Homo sapiens: one gene and its partner. The protein of the gene in region 1 interacts with the protein of each later gene in a biochemical or structural test. Each region holds a gene or a part of one and is shown in the gene's direction. Other genes may lie near its edges.

The links. Proteins that work in one complex are often made in the same cells at the same time.
Region 2: the proteins of NFIB (region 1) and ERG form a complex in vitro, tested with the Homo sapiens proteins (one study listed by BioGRID).

What each region holds. Positions count from the first base shown.
Region 1 is NC_000009.12:14,114,134-14,123,445, reverse strand, and holds part of NFIB (nuclear factor 1 B-type), read left to right. Parts: intron 1-2,821; coding exon 2,822-3,006; intron 3,007-7,099; coding exon 7,100-7,238; coding exon of another isoform or gene 7,239-7,265; intron 7,266-9,312.
Region 2 is NC_000021.9:38,378,367-38,383,481, reverse strand, and holds the end of ERG (transcriptional regulator ERG), read left to right. Parts: coding exon 1-79; 3' UTR 80-3,446; downstream 3,447-5,115. UniProt on the Homo sapiens protein: Transcriptional regulator. May participate in transcriptional regulation through the recruitment of SETDB1 histone methyltransferase and subsequent modification of local chromatin structure.

The sequences.
Region 1 (9,312 bases):
AAAAGTAATTCACATAGCACTATAAAGGATGTTTTGGAAGGAGCAAGACTGAAGGAAAGAAGACAATAAGGCTTTGCAATAATGTATGCAAGAAATACACATACATGTGTATGTATTCTTTCATAATAAAGGAAAACTTTTTGTCTTGTATTTTACTTTTCTTATTTTTTTTTCTTTTTCTTTTCTTTTTTTTTTTGAGACAGGGTCTTACTCCAGGCTGGAGTGTAGTGGCGTGATCTTGGCTCGCTGCAACCTCTGCCTCCCAGGTTCAAGCAATTCTCCTGCCTCAGCCTCCCGAGTAACTGGGATTACAGGCACTCACCACCCCGCTCAGCTAATTTTTGTATTTTTTTTAGTAGAGATGGGGTTTCACCATGTTGGCCAGGCTGATCTCGAACATCTGACCTCAAGTGATCCACTCCACCCACCCTGACCTCCCACAGTGCTGGGATTACAGCCGTGAGCCACCATGCCTGGCCTGCTTTTCTTATTTTTAAAGGACTAGAATGGCTTTTATGGAAAAGGTAGTCATTTTTACTCTCAGTTTGAAATACGACATTTTACCCAGTGGTATCAGGCCACCTACAGCTCATGCAAGCACAGTGCCAGGTTGCCCATAGATGTGAGTTCGGGTTTGATTTCTGCAATTTCACTTGAAAATAGATCTCCTCCAGAACTATTAAGGCCAAATTAATCTCAAAAGCTAAAGGACCCAAGATGGAACTATGTATATATCTTTCCAGGGTTTGTGTACAGATGTGAGCAAAAATCATGGTTAAAATGAGCTGAGATTAAGAGCATTTAGACACTAAGTAAAAGATGCCCAGTTTTTCTTAGATGTTTGTATTTCCTTAAATGATACTTTCAAATGGGTATACTTCTTAAATAAAGTAATACTTCAGTAAAGAGTTTTGTTTTAAGAAATACGCATTTGTTCTCTGAAATGCATACATTTGATGGAGGATGCTCAAACTTCAGTATGTAGGAAGATTACATGGACACTTATTTAAAATATACATTTTGGTGCCTTACCCCTAGAGGTCCTGATCCCCTAGGTCTGTGTGTAGACCAAGGGATCTGCATTGTAAGAACAATACAGAGAATTTCAGAAACAGTGCTCTGGACGTTCAGAGAACAAAGTCGTGACTATAAAATTGAATTTATGTTTTTTCTATTCTATACATTCTTAATTTCTTATATCTTCTGAAAAAGTTTTTTTTGGGAGAGGTAAGCAATACATCCCATAAATAGGTCCCACCCCCCCACCCACATAGTTTCAAAGTTGGAAATAAATCATTCTAGGTGATTTCCCTTTGTAGGTTATGGCTAAAATTTATTTTTTTTCATATTCTTTAAGTTGTCTCATAAAACATTAGACATTTATCGTTTATAATTTCCTATTATTTGAATTGGGAAATATTAAAATAGAAAGACATTTACTTTTCACTTCTACATATATTTGTTGGTAGTTTTAATTTGTATTTCTATGATTATTTCTCTCAACATTTTAGAGATAATGATCATACGATTACACTCTTTCTCCATCTTTCAAACTTAAGATTTATATTTCAAAAACTGAACAATAAATTATAAGAATACTAATGTTGAGAAGTTATAGTAAAATTGAACATTGTCCACATTGCATGTGTTTTATATAGTATTTCCCTTTATAAAATTATTATAAAATATGTGATATATGGGTAAAGTAATATACTTACCTATATGAAAGCTTAAATTTTCATTGCTGTGTGTTTTATTCTTGGTTTTATATTAACAATATCTTTTAAACTACATATAGTAAAAGTTAAAGTAGAAAGAAAAATAGTTGCAGAATAGAGCTCTTTTGGTTTTGAAAGAAACATTTTCATTAGGAGAGTTTCTAGCTCTATGTTCCAATGTTCATAAGCATTTATACCATGACCAGACAATTATAAATGACATGAGATGATGTTGTATTAGTTATTGTCTTTCCTTCTAAACAATTGCCAGGTAGGATGTACAGGGAAACGTTTTATTTGAAATTGAATTTCACTTTTGTTTTTAATTTTGGTAGAAAATTTTTGGCTCTTTTGCCCTCTACTTAATGCTGTGACTTGCTCTGGACTTATGAGACAAAGTGTTTTTTGTTTGTTTGTTTGTTTGAGATGGGGCTTATGAGACAAAATGTTTTTTGTTTGTTTGTTTGTTTGAGATGGGGTTCTGTCACCAGGTTGGAGCGCAATGGCGCCATCTCGGCTCACTGCAACCTCCGTCTACTGGATTCAAGTGATTCTCCTGCCTTAAGCTCCCAAGTAGCTGGGATTACAGGTGCCCATCACCATGCTCAGCTAATTTTTTGTATTTTCAGTAGCGATGGGGTTTCACCATGTTAGCCAGGCTGGTCTCGAACTCCTGACCTCAGGTGATCCACCTGCCCCAGCCGCCCAAAGTGCTGGGATTACAGGTGTGAGCTACTGCACCCGGCCTAAAGATTTTATAATCAAAGAATATGTTTTCAACGGGATATATCTTTGCTCAAAGAAGTGTTTTATCAAGTATTGACATAACCTATAAAAGAGAAACTGATTTTGTAACCACTCACAGAGCCAGGAAGCAAGATTGTTAATTTTCTAGAGTGATGTTTTATCTCTGTGTAGTTAGCCGTACTGGTGTTGAGAATAAAAATGAAAAAGTAACTGTTGATTTAGGAGAGCTTGGTTAAATCATGGGGACAAAAATGAATGGTTACCAGTTTTGTAGTTTCACAGCATTCTTCAGGATCAGAATGGAGCAATAAGGTAACCAGCTGATGAGTCAATCTTTCCTTTTCTGTCTTCTGCAGTCATCTCAACTCGAACTCCACCTCCACCTTCACCGTTGCCATTTCCAACACAAGCTATCCTTCCTCCAGCCCCATCGAGCTACTTTTCTCATCCAACAATCAGATATCCTCCCCACCTGAATCCTCAGGATACTCTGAAGAACTATGTACCTTCTTATGACCCATCCAGTCCACAAACCAGCCAGGTAAAAATAAGAGAGAAAATAAGATTAGCACCTAAGGGAGATGGGACAGATCTAATTCTGAGACACAAAGGTTAGTCAGACAGTGTGTCTGGCAGAACGTCAAGCCTTGAAATCCATCTTCAGGAAGTTGCTTGGTGACTCAATAAGTTTTTATTTAAAGGTGGCTGAATGACAGGTAGGAAGTGTGTTGCCCCAAAGGGTACATTTGTGAAGATGGTTTAATGTTTTTGGATTTTCACTGACTGAAGGGAAAGTTTATGCAGAAAGTACATTGACAGGAAAGCTCTGGGCTGGAGTTCACACCTCTTAAATACCTGGTTTGACACAGAGACAATGTGCTTATTTCAGGCAGGAGTAAGGTATGTGCTAAAATAAACACACACAAAAGAACTTACAGTTGTATTTATAGACCAACTATTAGGTATTAAAATAAGCTTTGGTAATGTAAACATTCTCAGTGTTTGATGACTACTTGAATATTCTTTGCAGAGACATGACTTACATTTAATAATGAGTGACATTACTAGAAGCGTCTTTCTTTTTTTTGGAAACATTGTGCAGTGGTTTTGGGGATTCATTTTGTAAGTGTAGTGACTCATGAGCATTTCTCACTCCCCTAGACATATGGTTTCTTCTACCAAGAGGTTACTTCATAGGAATTTGGTATATGAGCATTTTCCACAATCAAGTAGACAGTCTTTGTGCCAGACCTGGGGCTATCAATAATTGTAATATCTAAAACATGTAATGTAATTTTGATATTAGGATCTGATATTTAGCTTTGCTGCTTTACCTCTAAGACTCCTGTCCACTTATTATACCTTTTAATATTTTGGAGAATTTTCACAAACATTCCGTCATTACTACGGTGGAACATTCCTGAAATGCTAGTAAATAGTGTGTGTCTATCAATTTAAATTAGCAAAGAAAGGTGAGAAAAAAATCCCTTTGGTCTTAATTTGTTAAAATGAAACAAAATGGTCCTTTCTGAACTTTTAATTTAGAATAACAACGCATCCAGGACCCTTTGGGTTACTTAAAAAGTTATCATTACTTTTAGTTTGACTGACTGAGATATTAAACTCAATATTGAATTTTGAATTTGAAGTTAAAATTATTATTTGTATTTTAGAAGAAAATGTTAAAATGTTGTAGCACTTTTCATGACTGAAGTACTAAAGACAGCTAAGTGAGAGTGGGATCTTAGTATATCGTTTAGAAATAAAATTTGTTGTCAGCTCATGGATTCAGAAGTCTCAGTTCCATAGAGCATTTTGCTAGACTCAGCTGGGAACAGTGCACACAAGGTCTGATTTTAATTTGTGTAGAATTTCCATGAATAACAAAGTCTAATTAAGACATCCATTAAAAGTCCTTAACGTTAATTCAGTGTGGAAAATCTTAGAGTTCCATTGGATTTTTTTTTTAACTGATGTCTTAATTAGGCACTGTTAGGGGAAAAATTATGCAAATTAAAATCAGGCCCTTAGTGTTACACATTTCTTTAATTATTCAGTGCTTGTTTTACGTATATTTCAATTTCTTTATAAGTTAAGAGGGCATATTAGGTGATAATCTGCCTATATTGTTCTCAGTTTTTCTTCACTTTTTCAAGATACATATCACCTTCTAAGGAAGCATATTACTCTCATCTCAAAAAAAAAAAAAAAAGAAAAAGAAAAACTAGCAACAAAAAAACTCTCAGGATTTTGTATAATAGGAACCGTGTATAAAGTAGAATAATCCTTTCCTAATGCTGTTAGCTTCACCTTCAGACAAGACATCTCTCTTTTCTATCTACAGTATGAAAGTTCATCTATTAACAGCCTTAAAAGATAGAAATTTTTAGTGTAGCTTCATCTGTTTGAACCAGTAGAAAACTGAGGAGAAAATAGCCCTCAATTCTTCTCACCCTGAGTTTTAGGAAAGTTGTCTGCATTGACTTGGGAATTCTTTCTTTGTCACCTTTATTCTTTTCAAATGAGAGAAGTGTCTACTAGTTCATGTTGTTCAATTCCAGTAGGTGAAGTTTGTAGAATGGTCAGGGTAGGATAATATATTTGGTGGCAGCATTTCCTTGAAATTATTGTCATTCTGCTCCAGACATTTTGTTCCAGGTAGGTACTTTCAGACTGTTTTGGTGAACACTGTATGTAGAAACATTTTTACCATTGAATGTACCACCAATGATAAAATGAGACCTGTCTTCTTTCTTAAGATATTTAAAGCACTTATTTCCAGTGTTCAGATAACCAGAAATGGATGGCCTGCTGTAGAAACAAACTACTTTTTCCCTTTGAAAGGAAAAATGGGTCTTTATAGTTAACTGCAGATTTTTTTTTTAAGGAACAGTGTATCTGCTTTGATTTTTAACTCCAACTCAAAACCAATTAATTTGCATTTCAAATTAGAATTCTTGGTATTTACCATTTTAGCTTTAGAAATGGAAAAACATCAGTATTCCTTCACCATTCACTTCTAGTCAGCTGTTGCTTCCCAATATTCTCCAGCACTGCACTGATTTTGATTTTTAAGATAAGCAACTGAGATGCCTTTTCCTCCCCACAGCAATTTTGAGATTAATTGCATTACTGCTGCACCAATTATAGTGAGACAGTCATGCTATTCAATGGAATATTTTGAATAAAATTAGTTTAAAGATGTAACTCTCCCATAGGTTTCCATATTGGAAAACTCTGGTCAATTTTCCTGACATCAAGTTAAATACTTAAAATTACCCATGATGAATAATCAGGATATTCAGGAAGTCCATTTTCTTTATAGAATAAATAATGTGGCCTCTGAGGAGCCTAACCGAAGACTTAGTTCATGTCTCTAAGTCACAATATTTAAGTGTTATTAGCTGTTCATCTTTTTCTCTAAATAAATGTCTACTTGTAATTTATGTGCAGATATTTAGAAAAATATTCTGCTTCATTTTTTTTTTGCCTTTAACAGTTCAGATTATAAAGACTATATACTTGCCGAGAATAGCCTCCCAGCAAATTGCGATGAACACCGTGCAGTGGAGAATTCCAACATGGGTATAATCAAAAATAACATTCTCAGTCTAGAAAAATATATTCCACTATTTCTTCAAAGAGTGTATCCTTAGGATTTTGTTTCCTACCACGGAAACTATTTTTGTACCCAGGAGCTAAAACTCAGATAGTAACATCTTTTCTATCATTGCCCAGGGGATTTTCTCAGTTAATTCTCACAAATGTCAACAAGAAATGTTTTGTGTAACTCTCCATGCACCACCATGGATGTAAGAGTAACTCAAATAACAATGCTCATTTGCTTGTCCTCTGCTTCCCCTCAGTACAGTTTAATTTACTTTGGAAATCTTTTATTTGTAGGTGTAAGGACAAACGTAGCTCAGCATTTTATATCATTGTATGACCTCTGAAATTTTAGATGCTTTACATCTTATTCTATCTTCTTGTATTAGTAAATCATCAAAAGTTGACCATAGATCTCGGAATCTAAATTGCCTAATGTGTGCATCTCAGCACACCTGTGTGTAAGAGAGCTAGAGTTTTGTATGCAGGAGAATGGTTCTTGACTGTAAATGATGAAAATTCCAGAATTCGTTGTATTTGATCTCCTAGATATTTTTGTGTCCTTTGTTTCAGTGATATCATCATGTAGGTGAAAATTGTGTTCTAAAAGCCAAAACTGACTCATTATAGAAAATGAAGAGCAGAGAATAAGGAAGCATTGGGTTCCAACTGTAGCTAGTTCAGTAAGGAATTCCATTTTAGCCTTTGGGCTAAGCATTTAAGTCTGCACTTGAGTTTCTTGGCCTACTACATGAAAGGATCAAGTCTACCTGGCTCTCAGGGGTGCTGTAAAGAGGAATTCACCTATACCATGACGTGCTTTGAAGATGAAAACCTTCTTTGAAATGCTGCTGCTCCTTATTACTACCAACCATTGACTGGCCTCTCCGACTCCGACTCGAGAGGGCCTGTGTGGCGCCTATGCGCAGTGTGCTGGATCCACACAGTCGTGTGTGCTGAGTGGACTTGTTGAACAAGATGACTGCCTTTTGGATTGCTTCACCCGGCATTCTGTTTTTGTTTTGTAGCCTAACGGCAGTGGTCAAGTAGTAGGGAAAGTGCCTGGCCATTTCACTCCTGTCTTGGCACCCTCTCCCCATCCCAGTGCAGTGCGACCTGTGACCCTGAGCATGACAGATACTAAACCCATCACTACATCCACTGAAGGTGAGGCAGCTTCACCTACAGCAACCAGTAAGTATTTCCATAGGAAATGAGAAATGTCCATCAGAGGCACCATTGGATATCTGATCCAAGGTGGAAAACACGGCAATTTTTCCAGCTACCTGACCAGATGGAGATTTCTCATTTAAGTGGAGCTAGCAGGCATGGATGTGGCCCTGCTATCACAGGCTCTCTCTTCTCAAATTCCAGTCAGTGAATCATATTTGAAAAGGGAGAAGCTCACTTGTTTAAGTTAACAGCTATAACAAAAATAATAAGTCATGCCTGCTTGTTCAAGGTATACATTGAAATTGCACTGAGTAACATAACGCAGAATACAAAGTTTTCGTATCACCCAAAGAGAGATTAGGTAATTGGTACTTATTGGAGCATTCCTATAGAAATCAAGCCCCTTCACAAAGCAGATGGAATCAGTGCCTCTGTAAGGTAATTGCATGTTTACATCATTGTAGGTTATGTCATTGTTAAAAACAGTCGCATAAGGTTGGGAACAGATGAGGACATTTCAAAACTTAGTATTAGGCACATGTAAGCTACCTGTACTTTCACTATCTGCAAGCTTTTTTTTTAAAACCTTTTGATTATTTTGCTTATCATTGGTACATCAAATACTGTGCTTTTTAGTGTGGCCATAACATTTAAATGTCAGAGATTTAGCCAGTGAACCTTCCTAACACGTACCAATAAGCCGCATCATTCCTTTGTTTTTTCATGTAAAATACTTAGAAGTATAGAAGAAATTAATTTTGAGGTGGTTTCACCCAACTGTCAGCTTCTTAGTACTGGAGCTGGAATGTACAAATTGGTGAAGTAGAATGGATAAAGCTATCGAATTGGTGGAATTAGCATGCACCTCACCAATTATACAGATATCTTCAATTCAAACCTTTTTTTTTTCTTTCTTAGAGCAAGAAAATCCCCATGATCTTGAAATTTCCATGTGAATCAGAGACAATCAGAGGCATGCACCACTCATTCTTTCTCAGCCATTGGAAAGATGCTCTTTTTTTTTTATGGTTTCTGAAAGACTAGGAAGGAACCCTATAAGAAAAATGGACAATACTTTGTACAGTGAATTCAGCATTTCTTTCTCAAAATTCATGAGCCCCGTCAATTAATAAGTTCCTATAGGCTTGTAATACCCATCAGTAATTCTTAATGCTTAGAATACTTCCCTGAATGCACAGATGGATGCGACCTACTCAGGAAAAACTAAAAATTATTTTGTTCTAGAGGTTTGCTATGTGCATTACAGTCACCAAAACACTAAGTACTCATTTTAAAAGTGGATGTCTTCACATCTTTGAGCAAACAATGTCAGCAATTTAAATAAAAGCACACAGAAAACAAAGATTTTTTTTTAAGTAGTTGAAAGATTATCACAGGATAAATGGTCAAAACCAAGTTCTAGAAACTCTGATGCCTACTCTTGTGGTGTTATTAATAGAAGAGATTCAGGAGAGGATCAGACCCAAATGATCACAGTTCACTTATAGGAGTACCCTCAGCCTGTTTGTTAATGAATTGTTTTTATACTTACATACAGGTTGTTCAAAAAGGGATCTGATTTGACTAGTAAAATTACAAAATATTCAAAAGGAGTATCTTGGTTGTATAAAGATGGCTGCATCAGTCCATTTTCCACTCCTACATAAAAGAAACATAGTGAGTAGTTTTTCTTTCCTATAAACAAGCTTGTAGCTCCAGCTTCTTAGGCACCACCAGTAATAAAAAACTGGTCATTGAATTGATATAGTACTATGGTCAAAGAAAACACAGAAGCCAAGGAAGGCTCTTTCTCATAGTTGAAAAGAAAAAGCAGCATAGATTTGGTGCTCTTCTGTAAGGGTGAGGCTCATCTCCGGCTGTCTGTGAGGTGTGGTGAATTCCAGAGGCTTGGAGATTGAGTAGGGGTCACTGGTTGCTGATGGCTGCCTTGCATGTCCCCTTATTCAGGAGCAATTAAAATATGAATTGTGAGCATCTTCACTGTTTTTAAAAAGTTGACCTAAAAAAGCTTCCATGGATCAAATTCTGCAGTCCTTTAAGTGAACAA
Region 2 (5,115 bases), on another chromosome or scaffold:
TTCACCAACTGGGGGTATATACCCCAACACTAGGCTCCCCACCAGCCATATGCCTTCTCATCTGGGCACTTACTACTAAAGACCTGGCGGAGGCTTTTCCCATCAGCGTGCATTCACCAGCCCATCGCCACAAACTCTATCGGAGAACATGAATCAAAAGTGCCTCAAGAGGAATGAAAAAAGCTTTACTGGGGCTGGGGAAGGAAGCCGGGGAAGAGATCCAAAGACTCTTGGGAGGGAGTTACTGAAGTCTTACTACAGAAATGAGGAGGATGCTAAAAATGTCACGAATATGGACATATCATCTGTGGACTGACCTTGTAAAAGACAGTGTATGTAGAAGCATGAAGTCTTAAGGACAAAGTGCCAAAGAAAGTGGTCTTAAGAAATGTATAAACTTTAGAGTAGAGTTTGGAATCCCACTAATGCAAACTGGGATGAAACTAAAGCAATAGAAACAACACAGTTTTGACCTAACATACCGTTTATAATGCCATTTTAAGGAAAACTACCTGTATTTAAAAATAGAAACATATCAAAAACAAGAGAAAAGACACGAGAGAGACTGTGGCCCATCAACAGACGTTGATATGCAACTGCATGGCATGTGCTGTTTTGGTTGAAATCAAATACATTCCGTTTGATGGACAGCTGTCAGCTTTCTCAAACTGTGAAGATGACCCAAAGTTTCCAACTCCTTTACAGTATTACCGGGACTATGAACTAAAAGGTGGGACTGAGGATGTGTATAGAGTGAGCGTGTGATTGTAGACAGAGGGGTGAAGAAGGAGGAGGAAGAGGCAGAGAAGGAGGAGACCAGGGCTGGGAAAGAAACTTCTCAAGCAATGAAGACTGGACTCAGGACATTTGGGGACTGTGTACAATGAGTTATGGAGACTCGAGGGTTCATGCAGTCAGTGTTATACCAAACCCAGTGTTAGGAGAAAGGACACAGCGTAATGGAGAAAGGGGAAGTAGTAGAATTCAGAAACAAAAATGCGCATCTCTTTCTTTGTTTGTCAAATGAAAATTTTAACTGGAATTGTCTGATATTTAAGAGAAACATTCAGGACCTCATCATTATGTGGGGGCTTTGTTCTCCACAGGGTCAGGTAAGAGATGGCCTTCTTGGCTGCCACAATCAGAAATCACGCAGGCATTTTGGGTAGGCGGCCTCCAGTTTTCCTTTGAGTCGCGAACGCTGTGCGTTTGTCAGAATGAAGTATACAAGTCAATGTTTTTCCCCCTTTTTATATAATAATTATATAACTTATGCATTTATACACTACGAGTTGATCTCGGCCAGCCAAAGACACACGACAAAAGAGACAATCGATATAATGTGGCCTTGAATTTTAACTCTGTATGCTTAATGTTTACAATATGAAGTTATTAGTTCTTAGAATGCAGAATGTATGTAATAAAATAAGCTTGGCCTAGCATGGCAAATCAGATTTATACAGGAGTCTGCATTTGCACTTTTTTTAGTGACTAAAGTTGCTTAATGAAAACATGTGCTGAATGTTGTGGATTTTGTGTTATAATTTACTTTGTCCAGGAACTTGTGCAAGGGAGAGCCAAGGAAATAGGATGTTTGGCACCCAAATGGCGTCAGCCTCTCCAGGTCCTTCTTGCCTCCCCTCCTGTCTTTTATTTCTAGCCCCTTTTGGAACAGAAGGACCCCGGGTTTCACATTGGAGCCTCCATATTTATGCCTGGAATGGAAAGAGGCCTATGAAGCTGGGGTTGTCATTGAGAAATTCTAGTTCAGCACCTGGTCACAAATCACCCTTAATTCCTGCTATGATTAAAATACATTTGTTGAACAGTGAACAAGCTACCACTCGTAAGGCAAACTGTATTATTACTGGCAAATAAAGCGTCATGGATAGCTGCAATTTCTCACTTTACAGAAACAAGGGATAACGTCTAGATTTGCTGCGGGGTTTCTCTTTCAGGAGCTCTCACTAGGTAGACAGCTTTAGTCCTGCTACATCAGAGTTACCTGGGCACTGTGGCTTGGGATTCACTAGCCCTGAGCCTGATGTTGCTGGCTATCCCTTGAAGACAATGTTTATTTCCATAATCTAGAGTCAGTTTCCCTGGGCATCTTTTCTTTGAATCACAAATGCTGCCAACCTTGGTCCAGGTGAAGGCAACTCAAAAGGTGAAAATACAAGGTGACCGTGCGAAGGCGCTAGCCGAAACATCTTAGCTGAATAGGTTTCTGAACTGGCCCTTTTCATAGCTGTTTCAGGGCCTGTTTTTTTCACGTTGCAGTCCTTTTGCTATGATTATGTGAAGTTGCCAAACCTCTGTGCTGTGGATGTTTTGGCAGTGGGCTTTGAAGTCGGCAGGACACGATTACCAATGCTCCTGACACCCCGTGTCATTTGGATTAGACGGAGCCCAACCATCCATCATTTTGCAGCAGCCTGGGAAGGCCCACAAAGTGCCCGTATCTCCTTAGGGAAAATAAATAAATACAATCATGAAAGCTGGCAGTTAGGCTGACCCAAACTGTGCTAATGGAAAAGATCAGTCATTTTTATTTTGGAATGCAAAGTCAAGACACACCTACATTCTTCATAGAAATACACATTTACTTGGATAATCACTCAGTTCTCTCTTCAAGACTGTCTCATGAGCAAGATCATAAAAACAAGACATGATTATCATATTCAATTTTAACAGATGTTTTCCATTAGATCCCTCAACCCTCCACCCCCAGTCCAGGTTATTAGCAAGTCTTATGAGCAACTGGGATAATTTTGGATAACATGATAATACTGAGTTCCTTCAAATACATAATTCTTAAATTGTTTCAAAATGGCATTAACTCTCTGTTACTGTTGTAATCTAATTCCAAAGCCCCCTCCAGGTCATATTCATAATTGCATGAACCTTTTCTCTCTGTTTGTCCCTGTCTCTTGGCTTGCCCTGATGTATACTCAGACTCCTGTACAATCTTACTCCTGCTGGCAAGAGATTTGTCTTCTTTTCTTGTCTTCAATTGGCTTTCGGGCCTTGTATGTGGTAAAATCACCAAATCACAGTCAAGACTGTGTTTTTGTTCCTAGTTTGATGCCCTTATGTCCCGGAGGGGTTCACAAAGTGCTTTGTCAGGACTGCTGCAGTTAGAAGGCTCACTGCTTCTCCTAAGCCTTCTGCACAGATGTGGCACCTGCAACCCAGGAGCAGGAGCCGGAGGAGCTGCCCTCTGACAGCAGGTGCAGCAGAGATGGCTACAGCTCAGGAGCTGGGAAGGTGATGGGGCACAGGGAAAGCACAGATGTTCTGCAGCGCCCCAAAGTGACCCATTGCCTGGAGAAAGAGAAGAAAATATTTTTTAAAAAGCTAGTTTATTTAGCTTCTCATTAATTCATTCAAATAAAGTCGTGAGGTGACTAATTAGAGAATAAAAATTACTTTGGACTACTCAAAAATACACCAAATTCTGTGCCTTCTTTTTATCTTTTAACCTTGGTTTAAAGAAATCTTGTTGACTCACACCTGTAATCCCAACACTTTGAAGGACAGAGGCGGGTGGATCGCTTGAGCCCGGGACCAGCCTGGGCAACATGAGAGTACCCAGTCTCTACAAAAAAATAAATAAATACAAAAAGCCGGGCATGGTGGTGCACAACTGCAGTCCCAGGAGTTCAAGGCTGCAGTGAGCTGTGATCACGCCACTAGCCTGGGTGACAGAGTGACACCCTGATTCAAAAATAAAATAAATTTTTGACAAAGCAGCCCAGATTAATGCTATATAGAAACAACTAGATAAACTTTTCTAACTTGTAATTTTAAACTCATTTTACTGAGTAAAACATCATTATCTTCTCACAAAAAAATGTTAAACTATTATTCTGTTGGAGAAAGTCATAATATTACCTGATTATAATTAGTGCTAGAATATGTGAATTACAAACTTCTGCAGGAAGCATGTTATATGTAGAAACTTTATGGAAAAAAAAAATGGTTTTTTCATGTTCTGTAGCCACATGGCATGTTTCCTAAAGAAGATAATACAGAAATAGTAGGTAGGCAGAATTTCATCCTGATATGACTTCATAAAACAATCTGGAGATGTTACAAGTTTATGACTCATGACTCATTGAATAAGCACAGCCAAACAGTACTAATTAAAAAATGGATGCTCGTCTAGAAGGGAGGTCGCAGGATTAAACCCCAGGCTGCGGCCCTTGAACTTACTTGGTCATACTTTACTCAGATGAGGATACAGAAGCTATCCTGATCTCAGCTCCAAATGCCATGGGGCTGAGATGACAATAGGTTATGTGACACATCCAGGATGCCAAAGAACAGGCTGAGGTGACGGGTTAGATCTTGAAGGTGTTAGGACCTCCATCCAGTCCTCCCCAAAACATCTGGGAGTTTGATGGAGCAGCAGCACATGTGAAAAGACTTCAGCGTTTTGGAGATGACAGCAATGAGATGTAGAATAGCAGCTTTTAATGAGCCATGACTAGGTCAGGTGCTGTATACACACTGCCTCATTACTCCTTCCAACTGCCCCTACGGTACACTTAAAAAAATGTCTTGACAGATTGAACAATTTGCCCAGCTCTGCAGCGTAAGAGGTGCAACAAATGCTTGTTCCAGGGCTAGTTAATTCCAAAAGCTTTTTCTTAATCTTAAGCTATTTTGCCTCATATGGACAGAAAATTAAACGGGAAGGTGACATGACTGCCCAATCTTAGGTTGCATTTTCTGAAACAGGTCACAAACGAGGACTTATTTGTTATACATTAGACTGCAACATCAATTCTGGGCCTACACTTAAAGAGGGACATAGGACAGTTAGTGCAGGTTCAGTGGGGAGAGACAAGGGGAATGAGAGAACCCAGGACCATGTCAAGTAGGGGCTGTCAGTGTCTCTGCTGAAAGTGGGATTACCCTTATCACCCATTGATTCAGGACCCAGCACAGTGCCTAGCAATATCAAGCTGTTGGAAAACGTTTGCAGCTATATGCATGAATGAACATCCAGAAAGGTAACATCTGGACTAAAGGTGGGCTCAGCAGGGATGCCCATTGGCCAAATTCAAGAGAAAGCTTTTTAGAAGTTGGAGGAGGTCCAGATGGAATGGT